2 separate regions of the Homo sapiens genome follow, and region 1 is linked to region 2. Evidence: fine-mapped expression QTL. Tissue or cell type: tibial artery. Region 2 holds a variant in brackets; the other region holds the start of a gene. All regions are shown on one strand. Distances are between the middles of the regions.

Region 1 (5,380 bases), 23 kb before region 2:
AAAAAATCCTTGGACGTAAGGAGCTGGTACCTCTGAGGCTCAGGCTTTCTATGGAAGAACTAATAGGAAGAAATTAAGGGAGATCAAAACAGGGGAGACAAAGGGAGCAGCCCCCAGGGGCAATGGCTTGTGAAGCTAGGGGAGGAAGGGGGGCTTACGTGTGCTTGGGCTTCAGCCTCTGGTCCCCATAGGGAATGAGAGCCACCAACTGCTTCTCCAGCTCTAGAGAGAGAGAAGGTGAGAGGGAGGGCCAAGATGCAACTGTGACAAATATTTACTGTGCCAGCTTCCCAGAAGCACGCCTCCACCCACACCATAGAGCAATGTTAGAAACATGCCACATCTGCCCCAGAGCAGGACTGGAAGCACTGGACTCTGCTACCAAAGTTGGCAGCTCAGCTTTGCCATCTCTAGAATGGAAGTGAGATTTCCACTAATAGGTATGAAGAATCTCTGAAAGTCACCAGCAAATCAGAGATGCCCAGCATCTTTGGAAAGTTCATTTGTAACTTCCTGAACTGAATGAATCCTAGGACACACAGTGTTGCTCAGAAGCACAGTGGCTAGAATCCTTCTTTCCCACAAGGGGCTGGAGAATACAACCAGGGAAGGAGGGCAGGTTTTTGCAGGGAACCCAAGGATAGTTAAGTATCTCCCTGGCCAGCCTGAGACTGGGAGGTCAAGAGCTGGGAGCAGATCTAACCCCATCCAAGGAGACTCAGAGGGGCTGCCCCAGGCCAACAGGCTAAGAACTTTCCCTGGATTCCAGGCTATTTCCAGAGCCTTGGGCCACTCACCTTGGGGAATCTTGCCACTGCCCTGGCAGGTGGGACAAGTCACGAAGCTGGCATCAGCAGTTCCTTCACAAGGCACACAGGAACAAAAAGACTTGCTGCTACCGGTGCTGGAGTAGTTGACAGCCTTGCTGCCAATGGCTGGTTTGGAGGACAGGATTGACTTGTTCTCATCCTCCCGCCAAGAGCCCAGCTGGGAAAACGTCTTACCCATTCTTCAGGGGCGGGGGTTTCACTAATGAGAAAAGACCAAAGTTCAGTGCTAAGCTTGTTAGCACTGACGCCAGATGTAATTTTGGTTTGAAGTTCTCAAGACTGGCAAGGAGCTTCACCACAGTTTAAGCAAGCTCAAGCCTAAGGAAGATAGGATGTGAAAAACTGGGTGGTCACATGGGACTCTCAGAAGTCTCAATGCATTTCGACTCCTTTCATTATTTTAAAAGAGACCAATCTGCCTACAAAAGGGAAAACAAAAGAAAAGCAGAAGTTACTTCACTTTAAGGAACTTCCATAAGTGATTGTCAGAGCATTTAATTTTTCTCTGGAAAAGTTGCTGAGCTGTCATTCAGTTTAAGGGAAGGAAGTTGGATAGGGCAGAAAAGAGATTCTTTGAATCAAGGAGAGAGGAGGCCAGACTGGTCACAGGTGTGGTTAAGACCCCTATCTAAAGAAGCCCTGGGAGAAAGCAGACACCTCACTGCTTTCTGAGGCGGGGTAAGAAAGCCTGAGGAGGGTCATAGTGATACCAGGGTCTGTCTTTCACTAGGAAAACTCAAGGCTAAATCTGGACTCTGTGTGACAGAACGAGGCCGGCAAGTGAGCCACACAGATCTTTCTGGGCTAAAATATAGGGATGCTCACCTTGTTCAGGTCTGGGATCCCAGGCTCCTCAGCCGCACGAGGGCGAGACTTCTGGAGTGCGTCTTTGGGGAGAAGGGCCTCTAAGGGCAGAGTGGGCTGGGCTGGGCTGAGCTGAGCTGGGCGGTGGTGGGGAGAAGCACCGCCTGGGGCCGGCAACCGGCCGGAGTCCTAGGGGAACGAATGTGCCGCACTGGAGAGTGGGGATAGTAAGGACGCTGACCTCCCCGAAGGGCCAAGCCGATTCCTGGGCTACATGGGGGCTCTGCCATGGGCCGACCGGGTGGAAGCGGACGGAGAAGGTGTGACTTCATTAAGGGAGGATTTCAAGTCCCACCACACACCCCTAGAGGCCGTTAGTCAAGCTTGGTACCCGTGCGGGGGGCGCCTGTGTGTTGGGCGAGGAGGCGGCAACAGGAGGTGTCTTGACCTCCGAAAGGTAAAGTAGGTATAAAGGGTCTAGGGAGGGCCTTACCCGCGGACGACTGCAGCGACAGAAACGGAAGAGAGTGGAATCGAAAATGCGGGAGCGAACACTCCCCTCAAGCTTTGACTCAGTGCCCAGGGAAGTCCCGCCCCAGCCCCTAAGGGCCCACCCCCCCGTCCCCCGGTCCGCCCCTTCGCCACGCAGCAGCCTGAGACGCTGCCAGCTCTTCAAACGTTACCCGAGGGCCCGGACGCTGCTTCCGCAAGGACTAGCCAGTCCGGGTAGGAATTTCCAAGAACATTTATTTCACCATTCTTTAGGTGGTTATGTACAAGTACATACATAACCAGGAGAGCAACCCGGGCCCTCCTGGCCCTCGATTATAAAACTCCGATGGTCAAGACAGGTCCCACCCATCAACCCAATTACACCCTGCCGCTCCACCTTCTACCCGGAAGCCCCGATTAAAACGTTTTAAATAATGAACGGCCTGGCTGGCTTGCAGTTTGAATCCTGGTTTATTTAAGTAGCATTCAGGAGTTATACTGTAAATAAACATCATTATGGCTAATGACTAATTAAAATCACCATTCATTACAAATACCAACCAGGTTAGATAATACTATTAACTATCTTTTCCCCTTCGGTCTGGGGTTCATATTCTTCCTTTTCTGGAAGTCATTTTCATGGATAAAATATTTAGCATTTTTTGTTACCTCTTCCTTCACCAACTGTACTCAACACACTTCTGTAAACAGAGTGAGAACCTGGGTTCATGGACAAGCTCTTTTCCACTTATCTTCGGGTTAAACCAAAACTTTTTCAGCAACTTTGCCCCTGTCCAAGTTTTGCAGAACACCAGCTGCCTCTTCCTGTTCTAGGCATTCTAGGGCTAGATACCTGTGAACGGACTTCAAGCATTAAAGAAGTCATCAGCATTTCCTATACCTCACACACACTCATTTGCCCACCCTGAACTTCACTGACATTAATTTAGGAGCCTGCCTTTTGCCTTTCACATGTTTCTATTTCCCCCACTGTACTGTAAAATAAGATCTGCCCTGACATTAAGAAAAAAGGCAACTGTTAAATTTACTTTTCCCTTTAAATAACGGGATTTTTTCCTTTTCTATAAGATTAGCAAAATATTTCACAATACCTATATTTTTTCCCTTAAATAAAAATGTATGCAAAATTACTATAATAGACATTGCTCAATAGGTGCTGGTAGGTTTATCAGCACACTCTTCCTCCTTTCATTGAAATGCGGAGATTCCCTTGAAGTTGGATACTCTTGAATGCACCATGGAGTCTTTAGAAAGCAACGGTGCCAATTATTAAGTATTGCAGGAAAATTACTTTCTCCTTGAGAGAGGAAGAGTAACAACATTTCTATCATGCTCTGGGTGTTATTTCAATGCCAAATAACTATGAAGCTTGAGGTGGATTACAGAAATTATGAGAATAAGAATTATGAGAATAATTCTTAAAAACAACTTCCGAGGTTAATGTCTTTCAAAACCTGAAAATTAACAGATATCCCCATAAAAAATCCACATTAGCCAAAGAAAAATACTCAGTTTCAATAAAAGCAGAAAGAAAAATGGTTCTATATGAAGTTGAAGTTACACTTGTCAATGCACTAAAATAGTTTTATCCAAATCAACTGAAAAACTGTCTTCATACTATTCATCCAATGTCTAAAGTGAAAATTTAAGTTCTGGTCTTTAGTTTGCTCCCCAAAATACTGTAGCAGGTATTGTCTTGGTAACTCAACGATGGGCTCTATACAGATTCATCAGATTAAAAATAAGCAAGGGCTTCTATCCCATACCCCAATGACAGAATAAAGATCATCTCTGAGCAGCAGGCAGTTATTTAATACAAGGTCACTCCTCAATAGCGTTGGCTGTACCAGTCGTTGTTGTTTAACTGAAGAAGTTCTGTCACAACCTGCAGGATATTGTAATTGTGTTTCTTCAGCAGCCGTAGGTTCAGCTGCCTGTCACAGAATCCCATTTCAAAGAGATGGGCCATCAGGGCTGCTGTCTGATCTTCAGAAATTATTGGCTGTGTAGAGACAAGCAAAGCAAAAAAAAAAAAAAAAATTCTGTATAATTTAAATGTTTATTTTATACATTTGTATCATCTTGCAAGCATACTAGTCTTTCCAGATTTATTCAAAGTACTAGGTAATTAGATTCAAGGCTATGGCACTCCTGTGTACTTGATACCAACGGTTCGGACTGGGAAGGCCCTATTTTAGATTAGTTATCTGTGTACTTGAAGGAGGAGAAAAGGGAAACCGGGGAGCTAATGAACTGTACTTAGAACCAGGAGAATGCTTCACTCGGGGCTTTCAGGAAGAAGCATTTTTTGGCCAGATGAAGGAATGACAGCAAGCCCCAGAGACCCTGTGAACATAAGTGTAATTGTGATGATGGGGGAAGTATGAGCAAGATAAAAGTGTTACTGAAAGATGCTATGGGAAATTTTGTCAGATATGCAGAGGAGCTGGACAAAAAAAACAGCTTGGGAAATTACAACCTGGGAAGGCTTCTTGATTTTTTCTCCTCCAAAAGAATAGGTAAGAGGGGCTGGGTGCGGTGGCTCACACCTGTAATCCCAGCACTTTGGGAGGCTGAGGCGGGCGGATCATGAGGTCAGGAGATTGAGACCATCCTGGCTAACACAGTGAAACCCCATCTCTACTAAAAATACAAAAAATTAGCCAGGCGTGGTGGCAGGCGCCTGTAGTCCCAGCTACTCGGGAGGCTGAGGCAGGACAACGGCGTGAACCCAGGAGGTGGAGCTTGCAGTGAGCCGAGATCGCGCCATTGCACTCCAGCCTGGGTGACAGAGCGAGACTCCATCTCAAAAAAAAAAAAACAAGAATAGGTAAGAGGAAGTTAACATTCATTCATTCAAGCCCTGTGGTGGAAGCATTACCTTCCTAAATCCTTAAACGCTTGTTTTGTTGTTGTTGTTGTTTTGTTTGTTTTTTGAGACAGGGTGTCACTCTGTTCCCCAGGCTGGTGTGCAGTGGTGTGAACACAGCTCATTGCAGCCTCAACCTCCTGGGCTCAAGTGATCCTCCTGCCTCAGCCTTCCAAATAGCTGGGACCACTGGTCTGCGCTACCACGCCCGGCAAATTTTTAAATTTTTTACTAGAGATGAGGTTTCCCTATGTTGCCCAGGCTGGTCTTGAACTTCTGGGCCCAAGTGATCCTTGAACTTTGGTCTCCCAAAATGCTGGGATTATAGATGTGAGCCACCTCGCCTGGCCTCTGGTTCTGTTAT
Region 2 (5,380 bases):
GTAGAGTACTTTGAGTGACAGAACGGTTCAGAGGAGCCCACAACAGGTCTCCGCAACTTCAGCAGGACGTGGTTAGTGTCATGGCCATATGGCCCTGCTTCACAATCTTCACAGATATTGTAGGATGGGCATAGGCTGTGGGGAAAGAATGGCACAATACACAATGGCAGAATAGGAAGTACCTGGGGTAGGGAGATATAAGACCATACTTCTATGTTTGCTCCAGTACCAACTAGCAGGTAACCTGAGCATGCCATCTGACTATGCCATGCCTCAATTTTCCTCATTAATAAAATGAGGATAATAACACTTAACCCATATCCATTTTAAATGAAAATCTATGGGAGGAAGGTAAGATGTGAAAGTACATGGGGCCAGGCACAGTGGCTCATGTCTGTAATCCCAGCACTTTGGGAGGCCATGGAGAAGAGGATCATTTGAGTCCAGTAGTTTGAGACTAGCCTGGGCAATATAGGGAGACCCCATCTCCAAAAAAATAATTAAAAGGCAGTCTGTGATCCCAGCTACTTGGCAGGCTGAAGTGGGAGGATTGTCTGAGCCTGGGAGGGTGAGGCTGCAGTGAACCATGATTGCACCCTGCACTCCAGCCTGGGTGACAGAGACCCTGTCACCAAAAAAAAAAAAAAAAAGGCATTTGGAACAACCGAGGAACTACCCTTAGTGATCTAATTTTGTCCGTTCAGGGGAACATAATTTTGCCTGGCTTTGCTAATCCAAATGCACATTTGAACACAACAATCTGAATAGTTACAACATACAAAGCATGTGGGTGAAGAGTAGCTTGTGCTTCCAACTCACAGCTACAACATCTAATGCTCAGAAACAGGGTACAATTAATTTCCCTTTACCTACACAGAAAGCCAGGGAGGTAAAAGCTGTAAGGTCTATCACTAGCTAGCTACTCCCAAGCAACTGCTTACCTACACTGGTAGCGGACACCAACAATCCTTCTTTGGCAGTTGTTGCAAGCAATATGCCAGCTGAACTGGTTTTCTGGCAAAAACAATGTTTCTTCTGAAGTAGGCATTGAGACTTCTGAGGGACAAGAACCCAAGGATGGGTTCTGGAGGACAAGCTTTTCATGTAATTTCTGTTCAAGCTTCTCAACCGTTTCGTTAACCACTTGTTCTCTGAACTAGAATATGGAGCAGAAGGTAGGGAAAAAACTCAGTTCCAATATCAGAAAAAAATGTGAAGATATCAATAGATCTGAAACCTAACTGTCTCTGGTATAATACAAAAACACAATAAACAACTGCTACTGAATAGACAGAAACATAGCAAAAGGTCTATTCCTTCCACAGCTAAACTGGTTCGAAGAAAATATCAAAACATCCTTTTGATAAGTAAATTTCTAACTTTTTCTCAAGCAGAGAGTTGTCCCTCTCCCTTACATGCTTAGAATTAGACTCCCTCTTTTTCTGACACTTCACTGCAAAGGTTAGAGCTTTCTCGACTGGAACTGTTCTAAGTTTGGAAATTATAAGCTACCACTCTTCACCGGTACTAGAGGCAGCAGCCACCTGGGTTCAGTTTTCTATTTCTTCCACATTCCACCTGTGCCAACACCGCAGTTAAAACCCAAGCGAGACAGAACACTCACCGTCTCCAGGTAGCTTGTGAACCAGTCTGGGGGCTTGTCTTGAGGCTGGTCTGTGTCACATGGAACAAGTGGAAACGACTGGGAGAAAACACAAGCCGAGATGTTAGAGGTTACTTTTTCTATTTAAAATACTTTTCCTGGAGTGTATTATTTTGAGGTTTCTTTTGTGAAATCATACAAGTATATAATTTTTTAAAAAGTCACAGTATGAAGGCGTACTAAAGGAAAACAAAGTCTCTAGCCTGCTCCCCTTCTACAGAAGTAAACTATTACCAGTTTCAAAAGTCAGAGAGAGGAGCACACTAATTCCCAAATCTCTGATAAATGTGCAAATCTTACAACAAAGACAATGAGAAATAAATCTAGAAATTGGATAGACTGAAACAGGCAATGGGGAAAGGATTCCCTATTTAATAAACGGTGCTGGGAAAACTGGCTAGCCATATGTAGAAAACTGAAACTGGACCCCTTCCTTACACCTTATACAAAAATTAACTCAAGGTGGATTAAAGACTTAAACATAAGATCTAAAACCATAAAAACCCTAGAAGAAAACCTAGGCAATACCATTTAGGACATAGGCAGGGGCAAAGACTTCATGACTAAAACACCAAAAGCAGTGGCAACAAAAGCCAAAATTGACAATGGGATCTAATTAAACTAAAGAGCTTCTGCACAGCAAAAGAAACTATCATCAGAGTGAACGGGCAACCTACACAATGAGAGAAAACTTTTGCAATCCATCCATCTGACAAAGGGCTAATATCCAGAATCTATAAGGAACTTAAACAAATTTACAAGAAAAAAACAACCCCATCAAAAAGTGGGTAAAGGATATGAACAGACAATTCTCAAAAGAAGACATTTATTCGGCCAACAAACCTATGAAAAAAAGCTCATCATCACTGGTCATTAGAGAAATGCAAATCAGGCCGGGCGCAGTGGCTCACGCCTGTAATCCCAGCACTTTGGGAGGCTGAGGCGGGTGGACCACGAGGTCAGGAGATCAAGACCATTCTGGCTAACATGTTGAAACCCCATCTCTACTAAAAATACAAAAAAATAGCTAGGCGTGGTAGTGGGCGCCTGTAATCCCAGCTACTCGAGAGGCTGAGGCAGGAGAATGGCGTGAACCCGGGAGACAGAGCTTGCAGTGAGCCCGGATTGCACCACTGCACTCCAGCCTGGGCGACAGAGTGAGACTCCATCTCAAAAAAAAAAAAAAAAAAAAAAGAGAAATGCAAATCAAAACCGCAATGAGATACCATCTCACACCAGTTAGAATGGCAATCATTAAAAAGTCAGGAAACAGGGCTGGGCATGGTGGCTCACACCTGTACTCCCAGCACTTTGGGAGGCCGAGGTGGGCGGATCACAAGGTCAGGAGTTCCAGACCAGTCTCACCAACATACTGAAACCCTGTCACTGCTAAAAATACAAAAAATTAGCCAGGTGTGGTGGTGTGTGCCTGTAATCCCAGCTACTCGGGAGGCTGAGGCAGGAGAATCACGTGAACCTGGGAGGCAGAGGTTGCAGTGAGCCAAGATCACGCCACTGTACTCCAGCCAGGGCGAAGGTGCAAGACTCTGTCTCAAAAAAAAAAAAAAAAAAAAAAAAGTCAGGAAATAATAGATGTTGGAGGCCGGGCG[C/T]GGTGGCTCACGCCTGTAATCCCAGCACTTTGGGAGGCCAAGGCGGGCGGACCATGAGGTCAGGAGATCGAGACCATCCTGGCTAACACGGTGAAACCCTGTCTCTACTAAAAATAAAAAAAATTAGCTGGGCGTAGTGGCAGGTGCCTATAGTCCTAGCTACTCAGGAGACTGAGGCAGGAGAATGGTGTTAACCCGGGAGGCAGAGCTTGCAATAAGCCGAGATCGCGCCACTGCACTCCACAGCCTGGGCAACAGAGTGAGACTCCGTTTCAAAAAAAAAGAAATAATAGATGTTGGAGAGGATGTGGAGAAATAGAATGCTTTTACACTGTTGGTGGGAGTGTAAATTAGTTCAACCATTGTTGAAGACAGTGTGGCGATTCCTCAGGGATCTAGAACCAGAAATACCATTTGACCCAGCGATCCCATTACCGGGTATATACCCAAAGGGTTATAAATCATTCTGCTATAAAGACACATGCAAACGTATGTTTATTGCAGCACTATTCACAATAGCAAAGACTTGGAACCAACCCAAATGCCTATCAATGATAGACTGGATAAAGAAAATGTGGCACATGTACACCATGGAATAATACGCAGCCATAAAAAAGGATGAGTTCATGTCTTTTGCAGGGACATGGATGAAGCTGGAAACCATCATTCTTAGCAAACTAACTCAGGAACAGAAAACCAAACACAGCATGTTCTCACTGATATGTGGGAGTTGAACAATGAGAACACATGGACACAGGGAGGGGTACATCACACACGGGGGCCTGTCAGGGGGTGGGGTGATAGGGGAGGGATAGCATTAGGAGAAATACCTAAGGTAGATGATAGGTTGATGGGTGCAGCAAACCACCATGGCTCATGTATACCTATATAACAAACCTGCACATTCTGCACATGTATCTCAGAACTTAAAGTATAATAAAAAAATAAAATAAAGAAACCTGTTCAGCTTTATTTAAAAAAGAAAAAAGAAACGATATTGGATAGACTGGGCCATACCCTTCATACCTGCACTGCAGGATCCTCTGGGGTCTTCATGTCTGATCCCAAGACTCTCACCAGTGAAGAGTAATGTGCAAGTGGCTTCTTCCCTGCCCTGGCAGCTAGTCGTTTTGCTCCTACAACTGGGGGTGGGGCTTCATCAACGACATGGTGCCCTTCGTGGACTTGCATCTGCAGTTGGTTTCCCTGTTTAACTGCCATCTAAGAGCATACATTATGAAACAAAAACATGCGACGTGATTATCTTCTCCTAAATAACATTTCAAAGACATCAAAACAGAAGAGTGTGGTAAGTTATGCTAGAAAATACTAGGATTTGTGTTTGCTTTATTAAATCCAACAACAAATGTAATGTTTACACTCAACTTGCTATTTCTTTGGTAAGAATGTTAACTAGAAATTTATTTATTTATTTATTTATTTATTTATTTATTTATTTATTTATTTTTGAGACGGAGTTTTGCTCTTGTTGCCCAGGCTGGAGTGCAATGGCACGGTCTTGGCTCACTGCAACCTCCGCCTCCTGGGTTCAAACGATTCTCCTGCCTAAGCCTCCCAAGTAGCTGGTATTACATACAGGTGCCAACCACCACACCCAGCTAATTTTTGTATTTGTAGTAGAGATGGGGTTTCACTATGTTGGCTAGGCTGGTCTCGAACTCCCGACCTCAGGTGATCCACCCACCTCGCCCTCCCAAAGTGCTGAGATTACAGGCATGAGCCACCGTGCCCAGCCTAGAAATTTATTTTTATTTTTTTGAGATGGCAATTTGCTCTGTCACCCATGTTGGAATGCAGTGCATGGCTCACTGCAGCCTGTCTCTTGGGCTCAAGCGATCTTCCCACCTCAGCCTCCCGGGTAGCTGGGATTACAGGCGCATGCCACCACACCTGGCTAAGGTTTTTGTTTTAGTTTGGAGACAGGAGTCTCACTGTGTTGCCCAGACTGGTCTTGGACACCTGAGTTCAACTATCCTCCCACCTCAGCCTCCTGAGTAACTGGGACTACAGGTGCGCACCACCATACCTGGCTAACTTTTGTATTTTTGTAGAGGTGAAATTTCATGATGTTGCCCAGGCTAGTCTC

Direction of the effects. Alleles are on the strand shown, and positions count from the first base shown. SD is a standard deviation of normalised expression in the study named.
In carriers of allele C in region 2, the expression in tibial artery of the gene that starts at base 2,175 in region 1 tends to be higher than with T alone (small effect, 0.31 SD a copy in GTEx).

The links.
Region 1: it holds the start of TMEM106A, and the variant in region 2 is fine-mapped to the expression of TMEM106A in tibial artery (GTEx, PIP 0.97).

Annotation. Positions count from the first base shown.
Region 1 is chr17:43,208,670-43,214,049 of GRCh38, reverse strand. TMEM106A (transmembrane protein 106A) reads right to left here and starts at 2,175. Exons shown (of 9, transcript NM_145041.4): 1 at 2,128-2,175; 2 at 1,656-1,823; 3 at 798-1,029; 4 at 159-222. The coding sequence starts at 1,008. It overlaps NBR1 (NBR1 autophagy cargo receptor), which reads right to left. Exons shown (of 21, transcript NM_005899.5): 21 at 2,362-4,149. The coding sequence ends at 3,976.
Region 2 is chr17:43,185,364-43,190,743 of GRCh38, reverse strand. NBR1 (NBR1 autophagy cargo receptor) reads right to left here. Exons shown (of 21, transcript NM_005899.5): 6 at 4,300-4,494; 7 at 1,625-1,702; 8 at 942-1,156; 9 at 1-135. Among named protein-coding and RNA genes, the nearest start is that of NBR1, 17 kb to the right of the region's middle. The variant C/T (reference allele first, on the strand shown) is at 3,274.